Linked DNA regions of Homo sapiens: regions 1 and 2 are each linked to region 3. The links come from fine-mapping of genetic effects on gene expression. A gene starts in region 3. Each other region holds a variant in brackets. All regions are shown on one strand. Distances are from middle to middle.

Region 1 (8,187 bases), 180 kb before region 3:
ACTTATGTCAATGATCTTCCCATTGATCACACTGGCTTTGTGTTTTCTAATTTCAGCCATGATGATTCAGACTAAACTAGTCATTGAAATCTTCATTTTCTGAAGCAGTTTTCATCCTAAAGACTCATGAATGTTAAGTAGAGAATCAAATCCATTAAAAGATCTAACTACCATCAATTGGTTTAGATAAAGAAGGAGTTTTCATCTAATGGAAATGTTGATGGAAGGCAGGAACTTGAAATTTGGCTAGTTTATTGGGTTTCATTGCATAAATTATGGCAATTTAAATGAGTTTTTATTCTTACCCTATACAAGAAACTAACAAAAGAACTGGTAAAACTTTTGGATGCTTTCCATCAGCAGCCTAGGGTAATAATCCAGCTTGGCATCCATCCAATCCAAGAAGTGAATTATTCCAAATAAATAAACTAATTCTAATAACAGAATAGGGCTTCAATATCATAAAAATAAATATATTTAAAATTGAGAAACATCTACCAACTGAAAGGGTGGTGCATTAATTGTCAATAGTCTTATAGTGCGTTTTCAAATATGTAGTCACAAGTATATTTGCTATGTCTTTCTTTTCATAAAATAAAGTTATTCCATGGTCATCAGTAATACCATATTAAACTGTTTTAAGTCATAGAGGCTGTGATACAGAGTTTTGCATAAGGAGTAACAGTATTTTTCTGTGAAGATTAGGGTTTAGAACCACATGAATAGCAATAACATTGGGTTCATGCTTATCTGTTTTCATTTAAAATAAATTTTGAGAATGTATGGCAATAGTTCCACAATAGCTAAATTCTATCAATTTTAGCATTCACGAAGAATTCAAAATACCTTATATGGGGAGAAAAAAGAAAGTCTGCAGTCAAATGAATTTGGGATACAGTAGATTATTTTTCAGAGTTATAAGATTATATGACTTTTTTTGCAGAGAATTTCTGGGACTCAAAATTTAAAGAAAACGCTTTGGGTAATGTTACCGCAAGGGAATAATATAAGCAACTATCATTTAGCGAGCACTTACTATATAACCATAGTGCCTGTATTATGTTGATTTGACTACATCTCTAAGGGGTAGAAACACTATCATCACCTCTATTTTATAGATAAGGAAATACTTGAACTCAATGAATCCAAACAGCAGAACATTTCCAGAATGTATACAGAAATCAAACTCTGAAATTAAAAAAAGTTCCTTTCCCAGTTTTATTACGAATACATCACTAGATGATAGGAACCCAAAGCCTGTGAAATATGCCCTGATGACACCCAGTTTGCTTACCCACAGCAAGTTTCTATCAGGTTAATGAAAATTTTGAGAATTCAGCAAGCTTCCCGCACTATGTACAAAAAAACCTCATCCTTAACACTGAACTCTTTCAAACCAGTTTGAAAATTTCTGGAGGTTGTTCTCCTGTAGAGTGGAAATGGTTAAAGGCACGAACTAAAAACCAATGGCAAAGGATGGGGAATGCAAGTTTAGAAAAGAGGCAAAGGAGTTAAGAGAGTCAGATCCATTCACCTAAGAGAAAATCGCAGCTAGACTGACGGGGCAGGAAGGGCCCTTGTTTGGCTAGGCCATCCATTCCCATCTCCATGTGGGGCCACATGCCTCAAGTTCCCAGGAAACCACATTGGATGTGCCAAAACCAATGAGCACAATGGGAATTTAGTAACTTGCACAGCAGAGGCATACAGTCAATACAATCATTTAGCCGAAGAAGAATTTATCAAAGTATAGAACATGGATCACCTGTAACATCATCTAGGTTGTCTGTCCAAAGTGAAAATTCATGGAGAGAAACCTAGAAAATTACAACATCAGCCTCTGTAGACGCAGCTAAGGAGTCTGCATTTTAAGCAAACCTCAGGAAATTCTGATGTAAGCTTAAGTTCAAACCTGAAATTAGGCAAGAAAGAACTCATTATACTTCTTTTAGCTAACAAGAATAACCTTGGTATTCTTCAACTAGAACCTGTTTAGAAGACAAAAGAAGGAAGTGATGCTTAAGAATGGTCCATTTGGGCACTCCAATGCACATCCCATAATTAGCAGTGGGTGTTCTGGGCGGCACAACAGCTTGAAAACAGTTTGTTCAGGCTTACAGCTCCGCAGCCATAAGAAGCACGGCCCCATTTTGCAAGCCTCAGACACATTCCTGCTACCGACATCCAATTTAAAATTCTTATTTTAAGTTCAGAAAGACAGAGTCATGCACCACATAACAATGCCTCAGTCAATAATGGACTGCATATATGACGGTGAGCCCATAAGATCCTGATGGAGCTGAAGAACTCCTGTTTTTACAGCTAACCTGTTATACAGTAGGAGTATATTCTAAAATAACTATAAAAAGTACAATAACATAGTTATTATCAAATATGTACTGTACTAATTGCATGTGCTATACTTTTATATCACAGTGCAGTGGGCTTGTGTACACTAGCATACTAGCATCACCACAAATACATGAGTAATGCACTGTCTCAAAAAAAAGAAAAAAAAAATCTTAGGTAGATCCTTTAGAATATGAGTTGTCTGGTGGTTTTTTTTTTTTTTTTTTTGGAAGACTTATGTGTATGTTCTCTTTTTTTTAAACAGGTGGTGTTTGGTTATATGATGTTCACTTTATTTAATGACAAGTAAAAGTGTAAGGAAATTGAGCTATGTTGTCACATTGTGGAAAACATCTCAAGGCAGCAAGAAACTGGATAATCCTGAATATTTTTACCTGAAGGACTAAGTAAAGATCATAGCATGGTGGTTTCTAAGACACAAACTCTTCATAATCTAACATCTCTGAATTTAGGATGCATGTTTTCTTTTAATTTTTATTGAGATGTTAATTCACACACTATAAAACTCACCCTTTTAAGTGTATAATTCAGTGGGTTTTGGTCCATTCACATATTCACATAGTTGTATAACCATCACCACTGTTTAGAACATTTTCATCTTCCCCCAGATAAGCCTCATGTCTACTGGTAATCACTCCTTATTCCACTTTCCTTAACTCCTGGCAACCATGAATCTACTCTGTGTCTCTGTGGATTTGCCTATTTCTTACATACAATATGTTACATATAATATGTTGGCTTTTTCAACTTAACATGTTTTCAAGATTCATCTATGTTGTATGTATCAATATCGTACTTCATTTTTATTGTCAAATAATATTTCATTGTATGGATATACCATGTTTTGTCTGTCCATTCTTCAGCTGATGGACATTTATTTCCACTTTTCGGCTATTACCAATAATGCTGCTATGAACGTTCATGTACCTATTTTTGTGTGAACATGTTTTCAATTCTGTGTATATACCTAGCAATGGAATTGCTGGAGTACATGGTAACTGTACATACATTTTACCTCTTGAGGAATGCCAAACTATTTTTTCCAAAGCAGCTGCATCATTTTACAATCCCACCAACAATTTATGAGTGTATTTCAACATCCATGCCAACATTCATTATTGTCTTTTTGACTTTAGCCATCCTAGTGGGTATAACGTGGTATTGTGTGGTTTTAATTTGCACTTCCCTGATGGCTAATTGTCGAGCCATGTTTTTATGTGCTTACTGGCCATTTAATACATTCTTTGGAAAATGTTCTGAAAAGTTATAAACTTTTGATCGTCTTTTAAAGAGGTTGCATTTTGATGAGTTGTAAGAGCCTGTTACATATTTTGGACCCAAGTTCCTTATCAAATATATAATCCCTAAATATTTTCTATTTTGTGAGTTGTCTTTTTACTCTCTTGACAGCGTCCTTCCATGCACAAAACTTTAATTTTGATGAAACCCAATGTTATATATTTTTTCTATTTTTTTCTTGAGACGGAGTTTCGCTCGTCGCCCATGCTGGAGTGCATGGTGCGGTCTCGGCTCACTGCAACCTCTGCCTCCAAGGTTCAAGCGATTCTCCAGCCTCAGCTTCCCAAGCAGCTGGAATTACAGGCGCCCATCACCACGCCCAATTTTTGTATTTTTAGCAGAGACGGGGTTTCACCATGCTGGCCAGGCTGGTCTTGAACTCCTGACCTCAAGTGATCTGCCTGCTTCGGCCTCCCAAAGTGCTGGGATTACAAGCGTGAGCCATTGTGCCTGGCCTTTTTTCTTTTGTTGCTTGTGTTTTTACGTTT[G/C]GTATGTCAAAAATCACTGACAAATCTAAGGTTACAAAGGTTTACATTATGTTTTCAAAGGTTTACATTATGTTTTCTTCTAAGAGTTCTATAGTTGTAGCTCTTTGACCCATTTTGATTTAATGTTTGTATGCTGTGTGAGGTGTATTCCTTGCCCAATGGAATGTAACTTACAATTATAACCAGTTGTGATTTTCTATAACACATCTCACAATTCGTGGCATCTTAGATTTGACAAAGTATGGAACACTTATCCCCTGAAATAAAAGCCTATATAAATGTGCATTTTTTTTCTGGAAATGAAAAATCTGTTTCTCTCAATAATACTAAAACTCTTTGAATATCAATGTGATGAGAACAAAATTTGTCATAAATATATACATTTTCTTATGATAGATATATTAGTTTAAGGCTTCAAGGAAGGCTTGAAGGCTTATACACAATCCTTATTATGTTGTTAAAAGTGAATGAAGACTGTCACAAGAGCAGCAATATGGCTGAAATGATCATGACAAAAATCCATTAATTCTACAAGTCAGGTTAAATTCCCCTGGAAGTTAACTTTATTTGACAGTGATGTAATGTCACGAGAAATAGTAATATAGGCACCAAGGAAATTTCTTTAATTAAAAAATGTAGGGGATTTTCAGAATCAAGGTTTAAATATGTATTGTGCAGAATATAAAACAATTAATAAACTCAACAGCTGGAGATTAACTTGGAAGTTAGAGAAGTGAAAAAAATCAGTTCTACTCGTATCAACCTACTAAATGTCCTAATGAACTCAGTGACAACCACAGAATCTGAAGACAATGGCTCACAAACAGGCTGATATCCATTTAATAGTTTTTGAAGATTTTTTCCTGTAAAATGGCTTGTATTTCCACAGGTACAATAGTGAAGAAATAAACTTTTCAATTTGACATGAAATATAAAACAACAATTTTACAAACATATTCATAAAATTTAACTGCTAATAACACAATACATGGTAAATGTGACCATCCCCTTAACTTCTAGACTATTTAATACAGAGAAGCAATCTGTCATCTCAGCTAAAAAGAAACATCTTTCCTTTCATTGAGTTTATTTTTGTTTGTTTAGAAACTGTCAAGCAAAACTGGAAAATACTTATTTTCCTTATCTTCCTCTAGGGATTCTTCATGAGGGCAAAGACTTATTTGAAAGGATGTAAGTTATACTAAAAAGAAAATACTGAACCTTTTTTTTGTGTTACTGCTTCAATGATGCTTAGATTATTTTAAAAAGATGCTGAAGTCGTCTCATTGGTCGCACAGAAGGAGGCGCATCATAACCTAAGCCACAAAGGCTAAACTACTGGGACAGAAGATTGACAGTAAAGGGATGGAGATGGATTTGGCTTAAAATCAAAGTCCTGTGGTTTGTCTATCAGAAATTCCACTGTTATGAGGCAAGGCTGCAAGAAGATAGTTTTTACCCAGCATTAACAATGGTGTAATCACACACCCTTTCAAGCACATCCAAAGAACAGAATGGCTTTAAAAAAGAAAAGAAGTGAAACAAAACCATAGAACTGCAGGTAACAATTCTACAACCTATATTACACTTCAATTAAGCAGAAAACTCTCGTAAGTGTCCACACAATACTGAGCTCCCAAATAACAGAGGTTTGAGTTTTTCCATGAAAAAAAAAAAAAAGACATTGAAGCTTTATGAACTAAAGAGTTCTCCTCAAGTTTCCCAATACAGTAAATGTAATAACTTAAAATAATTTCCCTATTGGTACTGGAAAATAAATTCTACTACAATCATGTTTATGCCAGTTTCTGACATATTTCTGCATCCAGATTCATTAGTCTCCTTAATGGAGCCCATCATTTTTCCAATGGCTTTCTCCTTTCTTTAAACCCTAACCCTGAAATTCTATAACCAGTTATATCACGTGGCTTCCCTGAGGCACAAAGGTACCAAAGTCTATAATTAACTATCGAGGAATGATAAATATGTTCTCTATTTATATTAACAGATTTTAATTCTTTTGGGCCACAGTTGGGAGAAAAAAATCCAGAAACCTTAATACTCTGCAGGGTGAACTGTAGCCCTTTTTGCTAAAAGCTGAACCAAATAAGGGAAATGTTGAGAGTTGCAGCATGCATGACCCGGCAGCACCGATTATTAATAAAAAATTCCGGACTAGAAAAATACTCAGAGTTGTACTCCATCCACTCTGAATCTTTTTTTTTGTAGTAAACGACATAAACAACTGAAAAATATTTCTATGGGAATACATCACTGGGACTTTTACTTCTGGAAAGCTACTTGCAAAAGGCATTAGAGTCAGGCCAAGACAACTAATTGGTCTGCAATTTCCTTGTGTATACACATGGGGGAGTGGGGCTAGTCCTTTAAAGTGATGGCAAGACATAAAAAAAGAAGTGACCTTGGAGAAATTACTTTTCTGAATTGCGTTTCTCCACCTTGGTGAGCTACAGAGTTCTTTATTTTCACAAACTAACTCAACTGTGAAAAAAAAAATCTCCTTAGTCAAAATTGTAAAGGGATCTTCCTACAAGTGGCCAAGAAGAGCCTGGTGTCCTTTTTGCTGATTTGCCACCTCTCTGCAGTTCCTTAGGCAGGGTGGGCGGGACCTGACTTTGGAAGCCAAAGGAAAAGATGTGGAGCCCATGGAGGGCGGTTCACTGTTACCCCTTCCAAGAGCTTGGAAATTATTTCCCAAATTTCAACTTATATTTAAGCTGAATTTACTAAAAGTCAGAAACTTTTAGTTAGACATATGCCCAACTACGGGACGTGTCCAACTTGGAAGGTAACTTCATTTTGGGGGATATGTCACGTTGCAGAATGACTAGACTTATAAACAGGACTTGAAATGGAAAATTATGATATACCTAACTCTCTGGAAAAATATCTTTTTTTCTTGGTAGGTAAAATCTGGCCTTTCTGGATGCAAGACCATTTAGCTTACAAGATGGTTTTAGGGCATCAAGAATCCTTCAACCACTTTCTAGGCATACAGCAAGAAAAGAGAACGAGTGCCTCCTTTGTCATTCTTTGGGGCCCAAAGAATTACAGGCTGAAAAGACATACTCTATCAGTGAAAGCTAATCATCAGAGACTCTGGCTAAATCAAAAGGCATTCAATATATTATTCTAGGCAAGTCCATTTTTTTCTTTCATTTTCTGTCTGCAGGTAGAGTAAGCTATACAGAATACAGCAAGCTATCTGTAAGAGGACTGTTGTCATCGATTTTCACACCATTTAAAATTTACCCAAACAAAACCAAAACCAAAAATGTCTCATCCTAAACAATGATCTCCACTGAAAAATAAAGCTATATTAAAACTGAGAGGCTGAACTTTAAACATATTACATCAAATTAAGCAGCAGCAATCAAGAGTAATATTATCGTATCACTTTAAGGAAAAGCGTATTCAAATAGGTTAGAACGACTGAAAATAGGCAAAATATTTGCCAGTAGGCAAAATACGAAAAAACCAATTCAAGTATGGATATAGTACATTAGAATCATATAAATTACGTATATGTACAAAGGTTAAAAAAAAGTCACCCAAATCTGCAATGGTCAAATTAAGAGAACATTAGTTTAAATAAATACTTATTTTATCTCAGCCAGCTTCTACCAGTCTCATGTCCTAAAGGATCTTTACCTTCTAGGAGCAGTGATACGATCGATGCCAAGCATCCAAGAATTATTAATCAAAATGAAATGAAAGTAACAGGAATGGTGGAGCTCCTATGAAATTCTCATTTAATTATTCCTCAGCAACACTCATTTGCTCTCTCAAAAGCAGGAATTTTGAATTATCTCTGCAGATGTACCACTTGGTGTTGTGTATATCTAATCATCCCACTTAAATTTAGTTTGATTCGCAAACATTTTCAAAACTTACTGGGCTCCTTAAGCTGCAAGGGAAGGTGACAGATGGTGAAAAGGGAGTGCACAACAATGACTATATCATTGTGATTGGTTGGCTTTCTTAACAAAGGAAAAAAAAAAACCCCAAG
Region 2 (8,187 bases), 150 kb after region 3:
GGACTGGCCAAAAGAAATAGATCGGTTTCGCCTTGGGCCATTAAATTCACACATCAAGATTATGTCTTCAGGGAACCGGAAGACATTGGCAGAGGACTTCCTGTGAGCAAGTCATGGTGCTAGAGCCTAGGGTTGAGTTCCAACCTTCTCACCCACAGTCTGGGTTCTGGAGTCCATTTCCACTATGTGGGATGCATCATTGCTATTAATATTTATCTTTCTTGGGATCTTATTAATGAGCCAATAGACTGATAAACACACTCAATCCATGCACCATATTCTTTGATATGATAAAGCTAAAGAAGCAACATACTGTTACTTGGCTAGAGGCTGCTGTGCTCTGCCACCTAAATGTGCGCCAACATTTCTCCATGGCTAAATTAAATGACTAGTGGGAATGAGAGTCCATTCACGTTTGGCTCCCCCCATCTCTTTTTCTTAGTAGTTACATCTTTTTAACTCATTTCTCCCTCAAACAAGTGAATTTTCCTTTCTATTGCAGGTAATCTCTTGAGTTCACTGTTATGTCCATTTTAATTCTTGCATTCCCTTATGAGATATTCATTCTAAATGAATTGCTATCCTGTCAGTTACATAGCTTGGCTCCTGGCATGGGAATTGTATTTCTTTAATGGCTTTATTCATCTAAACATATTCTTTTTAGAGATCTCCATTATACCCCAGTCCTTGGAGGGAGACCTGGCAATTGTAGAATAGGGCCTTTGGCTGCCAAGAGGCCTGAGAAACAAATCTGAAATATTTTAAAACTAAAAGAGCTCATGAACTGATGCGTGTCCTGGATTGACTGTTACTGGGCTCTCAGCACCAAACACAACACAAAACAGCAATTCTTCTTCTTGGCTGTCAGGGTGCCAAATGAGTTTTTTCTGTGCTTAAAAATGGACAGAGGTTTGCAGTAATTGAATGAAATAACGTACAATAATTTTAAATATTGTTCATTCGGAGAGAGATTAGGCTTTAATTAAATGGTGTCATTTAATATACCATCCAGCAGATACTGTAATTGGTTTCTTTAGCAGAGAACACAGTAATATCTGAGCTTTACTGAAGTGATAACGGTACTAATTTAGCTCAGTGGATACATAAACAGCATGGCTGCCTCTGACATCCCCAGTGAACAAGAAGTAAGCTATGATCATGACACCTGCACAACTCTTAATCAGTCATTTCTTTCTGAAATAAAATCAACAATCACTCAGACTAAACAAAATCTGTTTACATTAAACAGGTTTGATATCTGGGATTTTTAGGGCATTAAGCTGTTCATTTCTTTGAATACAAAAAGGTAGGGCTGTCTTCAAAGTAGTTATGAAATTACATGTCATTTTAGCAGGAAGAATTGCATTTATTATTTTTAAAACCTGATATAAATGCAAAATAGCACTCACCGGTCCGTTCAAAGAGGGCAGGCAATTTTCTGGCACCATAACAGTTGCATATTTTAACTCCTATCTTCTCTTGGTCATTTACAAGGACATGTTCATTTCCAGGCTTGGCTCCTGTTTCCTCATTGCTCATTCCTGAAACGTGATACAATAAGGTCCTATTGTCTTTAAGCCATTCTGCTTGACAATTCTGTACAAAGCCAGAAAGGAGGTTGGGGGTTGGGGTGGGGTGGGGTGGGGGAATTTACCTGAATCTAAATGAAAGAAACAAATTACCTTCCAAGATATAATGCCCCAGACATATTTCAAAGTCACCAGAGATTAGATTACATTCCTTTTCTAAATTCTTTGTTTGCGAAAATATATGCACTGCACCTAGGGATGGAAAACTTTCATTTCCCTGTTTGCAAATGACCGTCCACATGTTTATTTTGGAAAAGAATGGAAACATTGATTATAGCAAAGAGTTGGCTGGATTGCAGTGTCATAAAAACAGTCTGGCTCTATCACTGGGTGGAGAAACAGAACTGGCAACCACTGGATAGGGTCCCTGGGGTGTGACTCCACCTTTATAGACTTTCCAATGGGTTATCAGCGATTTGTCACAGCGCTCAGAGCTCCTCCCTGCCCCATCCAAACTCAAGGAGGAGGCCGGGTGTGGTGGCTCACACCTGTAATCCCAGAACTTCAGGAGGCCAAGGGGGATGAATCACCTGAGGTCAGGAGTTCAAGACCAGCCTGGCTAACATGGTGAAACCCCATCTCTACTAAAAACACAAAAATTAATGGGCCTGGTGGTGGGCCCAGCTGCTTGTGGGGCTGAGGCAGGAGAATCGCTTGAACCTGGGAGGTGGATGTTGCAGTGAGCTGAGATCACACCACTGCACTCCAGCCTGGGCAGCAAGAGCAAAACTCTGTCTCAAAAAATTAATAAATAAATAAACAAATAATTAAAAAAAAACTCAGGGTGTTCCCAGGCTCATCTTCAGAAGATGACAAATGTAACTGGGGACATAGGAATGACGATAACGCTTCCTATTTTTAAATTGCATCCTGAAAACTCAAAAATCAGGATAATCTCAACAAACTCAGGAAAGCTGGCAGCCCAAGTTGGAGAAAAAGACCCTGAGCTAAATAAAGGCTGCCCCAGAGGCCGCTTGTGTCCTCATGGTTAAAGGACAAACCATGCGGCAACACAACCCACATCACAGTCCAGCTGTCATGGGCCATTATATTAACTGATGGTATGAGTGAGCCACCAGGACTCCTGCACTCCTTGGGTTTTCTTCCTTACAAAGCAAACCACATTCACTGGACTGGAGAACAACCACAAGAAAGCTACTATATTCTGAACAATTAGGGCCTCTGCTTTGCTTCCCTGAAAATGACTCTTTAAGCCAGGGTCATCCAGTTGCCACCAGAGCACCATTCTGGACAAGGCCCCATTGACCTCTTTGCCAAATCCAGTGGCCTATTTTCAGTCATTGCCCTTCTTGACCTTTCTGGGACAATTCCAATGGTTAACTGCTGCCTTTCTGAACGCTCCCCTCCACCGGCTCCAGTAACTTGTGATACACTCTTTCTCCTTTTTGAGTGCCAGAGTAATTGTTTTAGAATGTGGATGTGCTCAAGTTATCCCCCTGTTTGAACCTTACATTGGCTTCCAGCTCCTACAAGATAAAAACCAAAACTCAGTGGCATAGCACTACAAAGAAAGCTACAAAGATGGCCTCAAACATCCTTCTATTCCTGCATTGTTGCCTGAAACTTCCTTACTGCCATCTGTCTACCTAATCTCTCTCTACTTATCTCTTTCTCCCTCTCTCTCTCAGAATTTCCTGTGATTATCTCAGCATTCTACATTTTCCCAAGTCTCTGGGTCTTCCTCCATAATGGGACTCAAGTTATGTCTCTAATCTAAACATGTAAACTTCCTCCAAGCCCTTTCTGGCCCATGCAGGTAAGGTCTGCTCTTGCTTTGCCTGTCATTGGCACCTTGCACAGAGCTTAACATGTTACAGGTATGTGACATATGTTTGCTGCAATGAGTTAAGTTGATGTCCCCAATATTTAGTCACACTGTTCCTCATGTCTCCACTGAATGTTCTGTGTATCTTAAGACTTACAAATTTTAACGTGGCCTTAATTAACTGGATAGGAATTATATCTACCAAAACTAAGATTTTGCAGGCCAAGGACCTTAGCCTGGTGCTTGGCACATAGTAGGCACCCAGGAAATATGTGCTGGGTGAGGGCAGAGACTCTGGAAAGTGGTCCTGGTGAGCATCCAGAGTGGATTTCCTTCTGAACTCCTGTTTTCTCCCTTTCTCAGGGTGGCATTTCTATAACTTTATCAGTGTCTCACAGCAGTCTGTTGAATTCTGTTTCCTGGATTCCTGCAATGACCCAGCAGTCTCAAAGCCAGCAAGGACCAGTGTGGCATTTCACCCACAGCCTCACTCACAGTCTCCTTCAGGGCACACCAGAGCCTAACACACACAGGATAAAGAAGCCTGTTCGAATCTAATCAAAGGACTGCTTCATAAGTCTTCATTTCCCCAC[A/G]TTCTCTGCATTCTCCTGCCTCCTCCCTTAGACACCCACCAGGAAATAACAGCAGCCCCACAAGCCTGCAAGATAAACCCACTGGGATGACAGCCATTCCCCACAATTGAGCACACTGCCTCGCAAGATGCCCATACATTTTGCATTAAACACAGTGCATTAAATTAAAAATGAAACTTAAGTTGTTTGGTTAATGGCTTTCCCAGGCCTGAGGTTGAGACCAGACCACTGATCCATCTCTTCAAGAATGTCAGCTGGTTTTGCTGCTTGCCAGACAGTGTTTAGCTATTATGTGGCACATGAAGCACTTTCATTCATTCTTAAACCTAATGTCCAATTAAGTGAGAAAGGGGATTCATTAAATAATTTAAACTAGATCCAAATTAAAGGGCAGTTCTCTCAGTTGTACTTGCAAAAGAGTCCAATTCAACTGAAAGAATCATTTTAAACCAACGTTTGTTTGGGATGTTCTCAGATATAGGTAATTTTAAATCAGCTCCATTTATATCATCTTTTCATAGGTAACTTAAGAAAATCTAGCCTGTGGCACCCACATACAACATTTTCTCCCTGCTAATGAATTAAACTTAATTCTTTGAAAAATTACACGAGTTTTGGTCAAAATTATATGTTCAGCTTTTACTTATGAGGACCTGTTACACTGGATGAGTCATATTCATTGCCAAGATGTGAGAAAAAAAAAACCGTTGAGTGCCATAGGGAAAACTGGTCAGTTGTAGACATCATTTATATCAGTTTATTCTTAGAAGAGCTGAGAAAAGAACTCAGAACGTTTGACCTCTACTTCCGTACATTTCTACCTCACCTGCTTAATAATTTCCCAGGAAGACCTGTAGCCCAGAGCTGAGCCATAGGAAATGCAGTTTAGAGGGTTCCAGTCAATTAACCCACCAGGTATTTGCAGAATGCATTATTGTGCTAGGGAAGGCAAGAAGAGAAAATTAATCTCCTGTTCCTGAAAGTTGGTTTCTCTAAGTTTGTATGCAGTTCTTAATGCCAATTGGAAATGTAACCTGTTAAAGGTGGCAGAAAACCTGCAAGCATTCCTCTCAAGTCCAGGCCTTGACCCAGGCCACTGGGGCTTCTACAATAACTCCTATCTTGCACATTCCACTAAGGGAGGAGACCACCCCTCCTATTGTCTTATGCCCAATTTCTGCCTCCAAAGAAAGAAGAAGTAAAATCTAAAAGGCAGAAATGAAATCCACAGGCAGACAGCCCGGCACCGCACCCTGGGCCTGGTAGTTAAAGATCGACCCCTGACCTAATCGGTTATGTTATCTATAGATTACAGACATTGCATGGAAAAGCACTGTGAAAATCCCTGTCCTGTTCTGTTCCGTTCTGATTACCGGTGCATGCAGCCCCCAGTCACATACCCGCTGCTTGCTCAATCGATCACAACCCTCTCACGCGGACCCCCTTAGAGTTGTAAGCCCTTAAGAGGGACAGGAATTGCTCACTCGGGGAGCTCGGTTGTTGGAGACGTGAGTCTTGCCGAAGCTCCCGGCTGAATAAAGCCCTTCCTTCAACTCAGTGTCTGAGGGGTTTTGTCTGCAGCTTGTCCTGCTACACCACTACGCCCTTTTCCAAACAGTGATTCCAAAGAAAAGTACATAAAAATCATCCTTTCAGCAGGCCTTCCTTGGATAACCTAAGTCCCAAGTTCACTTTCATGACCACCTGCAAAACTCTCTGGGCTGAGGGAGCTGTTCTTACAGGCTAATTTGTGCCTTAACTGGATGGGAATTATATCTACCACCTTTTTCAGGTGCAATTTCACAGACAGACTTGGTGGGCTTTGGATTTGTCTTTTCCTCTCTTCAGTCAATGGAATAATAATGAAAATAGTTATCATTATTATTTACAACAAAATATTTATTTCCAGGTGCCGTCTTGATATTGAGCAGATAATTAGCACAGCCCTCCCCTCCCCCCAGGGAAAATCAGGCTGGGGCCAGCCCAAGCCAGAGCCCCCTCTTCATGCTGTTCCATGCTGCTCCCAATGCTGGTTTCCAGCTGCTCCCCTTCACAGGGGCTGCCAGCAGTGTCTTCTGGCAACTGTTCCTCCTGGGGCATCTCTCATTACAGCTGTACCTTCCACCTTGCCTGTCCCTTGCCCCAGTCTATCACTTGGGAAATTTTCAGCTGCTCCAGTCTGTGGCTTCTCTTGCCTCCAAGAACAAGTCTATAACTTCCCAGGAGCCGGAAAGCTTCATTTACATTCTCAGCACCACCTCCAGAGAGTGACTTCCCAAAGGGTCCACTCAGTGTCTTCTAGAAGCAGCTACAAATGTCTGCGTCCCCTTTAACAAACATTAAGAGAAAGAAAACCACAGTGACATGTATTAAGAGGAAGATGGCTACACAGCATTTTTACCTGCATATTTATTTTCATTTTCACAAAAGTCATACAAGGTAAGTGGTGTTATTTTATAAGTGAAGGTCATGGCAAAAAGCCCCAAATTCTTCTTCTGTTCCTCTGCCCTCTCTTTCACTTTTGGAAGGCATAAGGAAACCTAATTACTCTGCTCTTGTCACTTCTTGCCCCAAATCATCCATGATTCCCCAGAGTCTGTGGAATAAAGTCCTAATTCCTTACCCTAGGGCACAAGGCCATATACAATATGATTAGGCCTGCAATATGATTTCCCATTTTGTTTCCTAGTCCTCTCTTATATGCATGCTGTGATCTAGGCAAAGTGAATTCCTGAGTGCCTCCCACTTACCCATGTATGACAGACACCATGATGCTATGAGAAAAGCATTAGATTTGGATACAGACAGATTTGTTCAGATCCCCAACTCTGCCCTTAACTAACTGTTTTACCTCAGAAAAGTAACTAAAGCCCTCTGAGCCCCAGTTTTTAAAATCAATGCATTCATTTAAAAAATACTTATTGGTGAACAAAGAGACTTAGTTCTTGTAGCTCTGCAGCTCACCCTCTGGGTTGGAGTGGAGGGATAGGGGAGTTGCTCAATCTGGGTGCTGGTCCAGTGAGTGGTGGGCAGTCAGAGGGAGGTACAGAGGAGAGAACTGAAAGACTTTGAGTAACTGGAGGCTGGAGGTGCAATGGAGAATGGTCCCAAATGAGGCTGGAGAAGGAAGCAGAGGTTGGATTATGAAGGCTTTTTAAGCTTTGTTCAAGAATTTGGACTTTATTTGAAGGGAAATGAAGAGCAATCACAGGGTCTTAATCAGAAGAATGTGACCCAGTTTGCATCCTACAAGGATCTCTCTGGCTGCTGTGTGGGGAATGGATTGGATGAGAATGGGTGGGAGGGTAAGACCAGGAGCAGCAATGCCAGCTAGCAGAAGGTGGTTGCAATAGTGCATGAAAGATCATGTGGCCTGGACCAGGGACAAGGCAGCCAGGCACCAGGAAAGTGGGTGGACTCCAGGGATGTTTAGAGGTTGGGATCAACAGGGCTGGATGATGCTGATGGGCGGAGTGGGGAGAGGCAAGAATCATGAGCAGGACTCAAGTTTGGGCAACAGAATGGACAGTGATGCTATTAACTGAGACAGACACACAGGACACAAGGGAGCTGGAGCCAGAGGAGGCAGAAAGAAGTGATGAGTTCAGCTTGGACATTTTGAGTTCAAGGTGGTTATGGGACAAACAACAATACCACTCCATGGGGCTCTTATAAGAATTAAGTGACATAACATATGCAAAATTCTGGCACCCGGTGGATATCCACCAAAGTGTAGTTTTCTTTTCTGTTTCTCAAACCATTTCCCTTGCCTGGAATGCCCTCTTTCTCATTTCCATAAGTGTGAATATAACCCATATTGCAGAGCCCATCTCAAAAATCACCTTCTAGCACTTCCCCAACCTTCCTAGTCAGAAGCTTTCCATACTCTGACCTCCCAGAGCATATGCTTGACCTTGCATTGTAGTTATTTGTAGCTCTGTCATGTTGCTCCTATAGCTATGGACATTTCATTAATGATAGAACCCATGCCTGATTGACCTCTGACCCTCACAATGGCATTTGGTAATAAACAATAATATTTATATAATAATAAAAGAATTGTTATGTATGTAATAATATATATTGCAATATACCATTTACAATGTATAGTATATTATAATAAAATATAATCATATTAGTGTAATAATTCAGGGAGCCAATACAGTTATTACTGAATGAATCTGTATATTTTGCCAGACCATTTTTCTCCTGAAAGTAG
Region 3 (8,187 bases):
TTTATAAATTTTTTTAAAGTTCAAAGACCTTTTAGTCTATAAAAGATACTAATGTTTGATGTCTTTGGGCCCAAATTAGAGTGGAGGATGAGAAAAGGAAAAGTGTTAGGGTATATTTGAAGGTTTCTTATTGCCACCAAAGGGTGGAGTAGTCAAGGCAAAGTGCTGAGGTTACAGCAACAACAAAAAGCATACAGAAAGTGGGACCTGCTTTTAAAAAAAAAAAAAAGACCATAAACTCTACAAGCTACTATACCCCTCTTTGTCTTACCTAACAAAACACTGAATCATCCAAAGGAAATGAGGCAGGTATCTACCTCCTTTTGTAGAGCTTATCAATTTCTACTAAAATACTTCATTTTTCAGTCATATTTAGTCATATTTATAAATTTTCATTTGTAGAGGTTCTTACCCTCTTTTTGTGCCAAGAATCCCTTTGGCAGTTTGATGACATGTAATGAGCCCTTCTCAGACTAATGTTTTTAAACATACAAAATAAAATACAAAGGATTACAATTGGAATCACTTATACTTAAATATCAAAAGTCTTAAATTGCTATACACATGTGCACTTCTGTAATAATGCATTAAATAACAAAATCTAGCAGCAAGTCTTTTTGTTGCCTACACTCATAAGTGAATGAAAATGCTAAACTGCAGTTTGAATATCATGAAAATCAAGACATGTTTTTCCCCCATCTAAGTTCAAGAATGTCCCGAACTCCATCTGTGGACCCTAGGTTAAGAACCCTTGGTTGAGAGAGCCAATAAAAATACATTTTGTGAAGCATCAAAAGAAAAAAAAAAAGTCTTGCAAAATGCATTATCCATTCAACTGTGAGGTGAGAGGAACTAAGAGAGTAAGCAATATTTTTCCAAAAACCACCATGGGCCATTAGTCAGCAAGAGAGCCACATGCTTCAAATTGAATCCAGAAAGGATGCTTTGAGGAACTGACAGCGCTGCTGGAATCTGTCTTAAAGTGAGGAAAGGGTAGAGTAGGGGAGTACAGCCACCCAGCTCAGCCCAGATCAACTATGAACTTGAACCTCTCTTGTTCTGGGAGCCTGTGTCCTCAAGAATAAAATATAAGGGCTAAACATATACCATGACCATTAGGCCCCCTTCCAGTCCTAATTTTTTTTTATTATACTTTAAGGCTGGAATACATGTGCAGAATGTGCAGGTTTGTTACATAGGTACATACGTGCCATAGTGGTTTGCTGCACCCATCAACCCATCATCTACATTAGGAATTTCCCCTAATGCTATTCAGTTCTAAATTTTTATCATGAGATCATCTCCTCTTTATGCTGGTTATTTCAGTCTATTTAGCTAAATTTCAAAACATCACTGTCTTTCTTAAACTTGGAACATAAAGTTTTACACAATTTAAATGCTCCCATGGGTAACCTAACACCAATGAGTCAAACAGATGTATATCATTACAACTTTTTTAAACATTCTGTTTTTACGCACATCTTCATAAAAAACAACCACAGCATTGATCTTTTCTGCTATTAAAACAACTGTCAGGGAACTTAGAATATGTAACTAAATAGTTTCTACATTTGCGCCAATGAACAGAATTACTGAGCACAGACCAGGAAGGGCTCTTGAAGCCTACCTAATCCAATCATATTTTGCAAATTGATAAAGAAACAGAGAGGAGGAGGAGGAATTAAGCCAAAGTCACAGAGCCAGTCAGCAAGAGAGAAGGGCTTATTCAGGTCACCCACCTGTAAATGCATGTTCTTCCCACTATACCAAACTGCCTCTCAAATCCTGAGCCACTTCCCTAACCTTAAAACGTAAGTTTAAAATTATAGCAAAAAGACCTGCTGGTTAGACCAGTCATTTTTCTCTACCTTCAGTTAAGTAGTGGACACAACAAAGAGTTGTGGCTATGATACATTAACTGGCTGGAATCATGAAATAATTAAATTCCACTAATCAGCCCAGAAAGTGATGAGCTCACTAAAATCCTAGCTATGTGGAATCTCTTAATAATACTGTGTAACACACAAAAAGATATAGAAGTATTTAGATATGGATATAGACATCTATCAGCTCTTCATTCTGCTCTCCAGGATTTCCTAGTAATGTTTCACTATGACATTCGAAAGTGAGCAAAAAGGACAGTCACATAACCATTAAAAAAAAAAAAAGCACTGAATTTGACAAGCAAAGCTTCTATCAATACCAAATATTAGGCATTTTTAGATCTCAGGAATCATCTCATTATTCAGAAAATCTACTTGAAATTTTCTGTTTTCCAATATTTATACCCCAGAGGACATAAAGATAATATCATAAAGATGATATTAATTCTATGTGAATGTTATTGTTGTTTTAAGATGAAGTACACTGTCTCAAATCCTAAGGGTGGAATATGAATAAGGTTCTCTCTAAAAATCTTCCTACCTAGTCACTCTTTCACCTGCACTCTTCAATGTGTTCAACATTGGTAAACAGTCAGAAACCTACCCTCGAAAAAAGAAAAATACCACAATTCAAGTATTCAAAAACCAGACTAGCATCCTCTACTCACATTTCACCTCCTCAGAGAGAACTTCCCTCACCTTCCAGCCGAAGAAACCAATACCCACCTAAGCAGTCACTCTCCAAGTTTATCAACTCCTCTTCAGAACTTGGCTGCACCTGAAATTGTCACTTATTACTCCTCTATTTGCATGTTTCTTTCTGTTTATGCCTGTCACTCCACTCTAAAAGGAAAGTTCCCTGTTCTCACTGCATCAGCAATGCCTAAACAGCACAGGCACAGAGTAGGTACACAAACGACGGTTGAGTGTCTCGCCCCCTAAGTGCCAACTATGTCATACTTTGGTCTCCTGGAAAAGCATTAGCAAAGGGCAGACCATATGCAACTGCAACGTTATATCCCGGGCTCCTGTGGAGTGAGACTATGATACTAGGACAATCCAGGGTTTCAATCCTTTCCGTGGCTTCGGAATGCCCTGCACTTCCAGCTATGAACACAAAACCTCTCCAGGCCCACTCGCTGCTTTTCTGAAACATCTCAACAATGATTTCCTCAAAAGGAAATAATGAAATAAAGTTCTGGCATACGTTAATCTTCCGCGTCAAGTTCACAGTGTTAAACACACTGAAGCCAGCCACACAAACAAAACCAAACTCCACAAGATTAGGTTGGGCTGAAGTTACATAAGACAGACTAAACTGCGGCTTTTCTCCTGTCATTCCTCCCGCCTTCCTGTGAACCCTGATATTTGTCTTTGAAGTGCAATTAAGATGTAGGTGAGAAAAACACTTATCTGCAAACAGCTTCAAAATAGGTAATGAGATTTCCAATACCACCCCCACTTAATGCACTAGCAACAAAGTCAGGAAGACTGGGAAGCTTTGAGTTGTGCGGTGTCTGGAAGCTTCCCTCAAAAACTCCTCTCTTTAAATTATTTTTAAGTCAGCACTTACTTCAAGGCACTCACTTATCAAAACACGTTTTGCAAAGTTCCCTGAGTCTTCCCACAGCCATGACTCCTCATATGTGTGCTAAGCCTACCTATCAGCGCCGAGGATGTTCTGAATACAGGTCTTTCAACGCAGAAGGACAAAAGCGCGGGTTCCCAGAGCGACACATCCAAAGGAAAAAATAATCCTTTCTTCAACACTAAACCCAAGTTGTTCCTTCCCCCCAGTTTCCTGCACTTCCCCCTTCCCCCTCCCCTTTCACTGCCCACTATATCCAGTTTTAAGCCCGCAAAGCCTCTCTCCTGGCTTATTAAGGGTAAACAATAGAAATGTCACAAGGAAACTCAGGAAGTAGATGAAGTCTCTAATTGCTGCCGTTTAACGATTGTACATAATTACTATCTTCAAGATGCGGCTTTCACCAGCAGAGAGGGAGCCGAGGCGGGCGAGGCTGGCGAGCTCCCCGCAGCCGGGAGGGCATCAGCGAGGCCGGGACCGGGGGGATACGGCCCGCGCCCCGGTGCCAGGCCCCGAGCAGCCGCATCCTGTCCCTCCCCTCCAGAGCACTCCAAGCGGGGAGAAGCGGAGGGCCGGCCGGCCCGGGTCACACACAGTTCACTGCTCTCGGGCTGCGGCGGCCCGCGGCGGTCATCGGAACAATTTGCAAAGCGCAGCCGGGGATCCCACAGCCCGCGGCGGCCCAAGCTCACGGCGCCGCGCTCGGAGTTCGGGGGCGCGGGTACCACGGTCCGCGAGGGAGGTGGGAAGACGGGGCTCCGCGCCGGCCGGCCTCTCAGCTTCGGGAAGCGACCCCGCGAAGCGCCCGCGACCGCGGCGCCTCACATGGAGTCCCTGCCCGCCCTCCCCGGCCCGGACGCGGCGCGCGGGAAGTGGAGCCCCTGCCCCCGCCCCCACGATACGGCCGCGGACCCGGTGCCCGGCGCTGCCCCCGCTGGGTCGCCCGAGTTCTGGCCACTTCCTCCGCCGCGTCCTCCGCGCGGACAGCGCAGCCCGGCGTCCGCCGCAGCACCCCGAGCGCGCGCCGATGGGGCGCATCCCGCCCCCGCGCCGCCGTCCGGGCCCTGAGAGCCTCTCCTGCCGCCCCGAGCGCCCCGGCGGTCCCCAAAGAGCACCGAGCCACCCCGCCAGCCCCGCTCCAGGATGCGGGCGCTCCCCGCCCGCGCCGCTGCCCGGGACCAGGGACCCCAGGACTCACCCGAGCACCACCAGCTCCCCGTATTTCACTGGCTCCTTATTGGGGGCGCAGTGTTCCTCCTGGCCAGGGGAAAACATGGAGCCCCGCTCGGCCGCCGACGCCGCCGCCGACGCCGCCGCCTCCGCCGCGATCCCCGCCGAGTCCGCGCCGCCGCTACAATCCCATCCCGAGAACGGGGTGAGCGCGCCGGGGAAGGGCACGGCGGCGAAGGGGGCGCGGGGCGGCCAGTCCCGCTGCTGCTCCGTCGTGGCTGCGCGGCTGCTCCGCCTGACTCCCCGGAGCTCCGCGCGCCGCGGCCGCCCCGAGTCAGAGCCGGCAACAAATGGGACCCGGCAGCAGGGGGACCTGCCTGCGCTGAGCGCCGCCGCCGAAGCCCCGCGGGAGGGAGGGAAGGAGGAGGGAGCGGGCGCACGAGAGGCTGGGGCCGCGCGGGGGAGGCGGGGGCCAGCGCGCGGGCAGGTGGGAGCCGCCCCGCCCCACGCAGAGCCAGGCGCCCGCCCCCGGCCCGCGGGGCGCCCCCTCCCCCGGCGCGTGGGGCCGTCCGCGCCCACTCCCCGCCCCCCTCGGCCCGGCGGAGGCTCGGCCCCTGTGTTATGTAAACATAGAGTAAAAGGGAAAGGAAGTTCTTAAAGGAGCAGCTCTGTTTTTTTTCCTCACTTCCTTCCCCAAACTTAGAGCGCGGGGTCCTCAGCCCTCGCCGCCTGGTTCTTCAGCCGCGAAGGCCCGCGGGAGATCCTGGAAACGAGCGGCCGCGGTTCCCAAGCCCACGTTTTCCTGGCTGGAGTTCGATGGGATTAACTTCCTCTCCGAGTAGAATAGCGCTCTCTCGACGTCACTGTGTCCCGGCTTACAACTAGAGGTGTCGCACACACCCACTTGGGTGCCTCCCCTTCCAAAACCAAGCAGAAAGGCGTCTAGAAAATTAGAAGGTTTTGCCAGTTGGTGCTGGCGTAGAGGACGTTTCGAAGGCGCTTGGAGCACCCCACCGTTGCACTGGATGTAGCTACCCCGGCTTGTGGTCAATAGAGCTCCACCTGGCTTTTGGGGGGTGGCGGGGGGATGGGGGAAGAGTTGTTTTTTAATCCATACTTTATCCACTTTTCCTGTGCCTTCTTTCCATCCCCTAATACATACAAGGGGAAATTACCTGGGTGGACTTTTTAGTGAACGTAAATGTTCCTTTATGACCGTGATTTAATCAATGCACTGTTTGCTTTCTATTCTTTTTAAACTAGTTATTGCTATGGCTTTAAAATATCGTAGACTGTATAGTTTTACTGACTGCTGTTTTTCATCATACAGGATTTTATTGTTCTAACATTTATTAAGCACTCATAATGTGCTAGAAACTCTACATATTATTGCGAGTCATTGCCTCTCAACACTGTTAAATATTTAAAGAAATAAATACTGCAGAAGCTACCCTGTGTATAGTGACTGGTTGGCTATGACCCGAAGCAAAGGGCTAGAAAAAATAATAATTGCATCTGTAACCTTCCATTCCGCTGTGCTGCACCCCTTGTGTAACATTCTCTGACAGGTTATTACGGTAGTGACATGATGTTTCTGATAATTTTACTTCAGTTAGGAACTGATTTTTTTAATTGAGGTTTTAGAAATAAATTATTCCAAAGTAACTAAAGCCACACCACTGGTAAGCCAAAAATAAACTTTATTAAACAGTTAACTTATTTCAGCTAACTATAGAAATTCTGTATTTCAAATGAATATTAGTTATTCTGCATATATTACGTATTCTCTATATTTTTTATATGTAATAAAAAATCTGTTACAGTTTTAACCAGCACTCCTTCACTAAAGGGATAAATCATGTCTCCTCCCCAGTGTTGATGTAAATTTCTTTCAAATTTCTGCTGGATTAATGTTGTCTTCATGTACTCTGTGCATCTACTTACCACATAGATTGTATGACTATCAAAGATCTGTCAGAATCATTCTGCAGTTGCGCCGTCACGATTACGATGATGCCTGCCTCTGTCACCCTAGCTTCTCTAGGCCTCCTCTGTTGCTGCTTCTGCTCTCTAGGCTACCATTACCTCCTTCCTTCTCTCTTGGCCTGCTGTGCCTGTGTGCGTTGCATTGCATTATACTGTTCTGGCTGCATTTCCTCCTTGCTGTGCTTCGCATCTGCTCTTAGGAAGATAGAAAGAAATATGTATTAACCTCCTACTAAGTTCCCAGCACTAGGCTGAGAGTTTCCCATAGGATATCCCAATCTTCCAAGGCCCCCCCGTCTAGCTATCTGCCTGTGGCACCCCTGACTTCCAGAGGGACATGTCTCTCTACTCTCCCAACATGTCTTTGAGAATGTTTATAGTACTTAATCAGGTCTGTCTTTATCAGACTGACTTACAGGAAGTGTTGTTGTGAATGAGTTTTTGTGTCAATGGAGGCTTTTTATCCTAGGCAGCTCAAGGCTAGATCAGCTCTGTGAATCACTCTGAGCCCTGAAAGCTTCTGACTGGTAAGAGCAATTCTATTGATCACAGTCAAGAATACATACAGGGACCAGGCATGGAAATCCAAATGAGCAAATGGGCTGAGTGAGGACTGTGGCACATTGGTAGGGTCTGTGCCGTCTACAGGGCTTATCTGTCACTCATCTCTAGCTGATTGTTGCCATGTGACAATGACAGTTCACTCTTGCTAGATGTAATTTTTCTAAAAGCCTCAAATCCTGATTACACCAAACCTCTCAATTTTTAACTGTTGGCAACTCATTCACACTTTCAATTTTCTTGAAACACAGCATGAGCCCATCAAAACTATGTCTGTTTTTCTAGACTCTATGTACCCAAGGTCCCCACAGTTGCTTTCTCTGATTTCAAGGAAACAGACATGAGTAAAGGTAAAAACACTTCTCAAATGGTATCAAATGGTAGGGCTGGGGGGATGGCAGAGTGGTGAGGGGTGTTAACTTGATTTTCTCAGAGCGTTGATGGCTTGTGTTCCTAAAGAAGCCAGCGTGTGACTTTCTCTGTGCATCTCTTATCAGAGTTATTTGCTCACAACTTAAACCAATTAGGACATGACCCCATCATCCCCAGTTAATATTAAGAATCTGATTGTAGCATGGATTTATCCTCTCTTGAATGTAATTGTTTTAGTGAGTTGCTCCAGGCTGGTGGGACAATCTGGCTGTGCCATCTGCCAACCCACTAAGAGCCAGGGTGGGCTTGGCTGACTTGATTGCCAGGGCAGACCCTTCCCTGCTCTCTCTGCTTGCCATTCCATTTATGTCCCTCACCCCAGACCACTCTCTTGAAGAGGATGACCCGCCCACATCATCCCAGAGGGAGTCTGTGCTATTTCTTGGGCTACCAGAGGCCATATGCTTACTATACAAATAAATAATGTAAGGCTTTATCTTGACTTTTCCCCAATTGTGTCTTCCTGTTTTGTTAAAATCAAAAGATTTAGTGAAAAAGTGTATGTTTGTTTTAAACATACCTAAAGTCAGTCAAATACCTTTCAGTATTTCTAGAATGAAGCATCTA

Which allele goes with the higher level. Alleles are on the strand shown, and positions count from the first base shown. SD is a standard deviation of normalised expression in the study named. Not every link is listed here.
As copies of A replace G in region 2, the expression in tibial nerve of the gene that starts at base 4,996 in region 3 goes up (small effect, 0.26 SD a copy in GTEx).

Evidence for each region. PIP is the estimated chance that this variant, and not a neighbour inherited with it, causes the effect.
Region 1: its variant is fine-mapped to the expression of PELI2 in whole blood (TOPMed, PIP above 0.99).
Region 2: its variant is fine-mapped to the expression of PELI2 in tibial nerve (GTEx, PIP 0.99).

What each region holds. Positions count from the first base shown.
Region 1 is chr14:56,298,097-56,306,283 of GRCh38, reverse strand. PELI2 (pellino E3 ubiquitin protein ligase family member 2) reads right to left here. Exons shown (of 6, transcript NM_021255.3): 6 at 4,760-8,187. Among named protein-coding and RNA genes, the nearest start is that of LINC02284, 8.8 kb to the left of the region's middle. The variant G/C (reference allele first, on the strand shown) is at 4,158.
Region 2 is chr14:55,970,156-55,978,342 of GRCh38, reverse strand. No RefSeq gene overlaps it. Among named protein-coding and RNA genes, the nearest start is that of PELI2, 140 kb to the left of the region's middle. The variant A/G (reference allele first, on the strand shown) is at 3,969.
Region 3 is chr14:56,115,220-56,123,406 of GRCh38, reverse strand. It overlaps PELI2 (pellino E3 ubiquitin protein ligase family member 2), which reads right to left and starts at 4,996. Exons shown (of 6, transcript NM_021255.3): 1 at 4,670-4,996. The coding sequence starts at 4,746. RefSeq lists silencers at 4,519-4,588, 4,879-5,138, 5,179-5,238 and an enhancer at 5,369-5,608.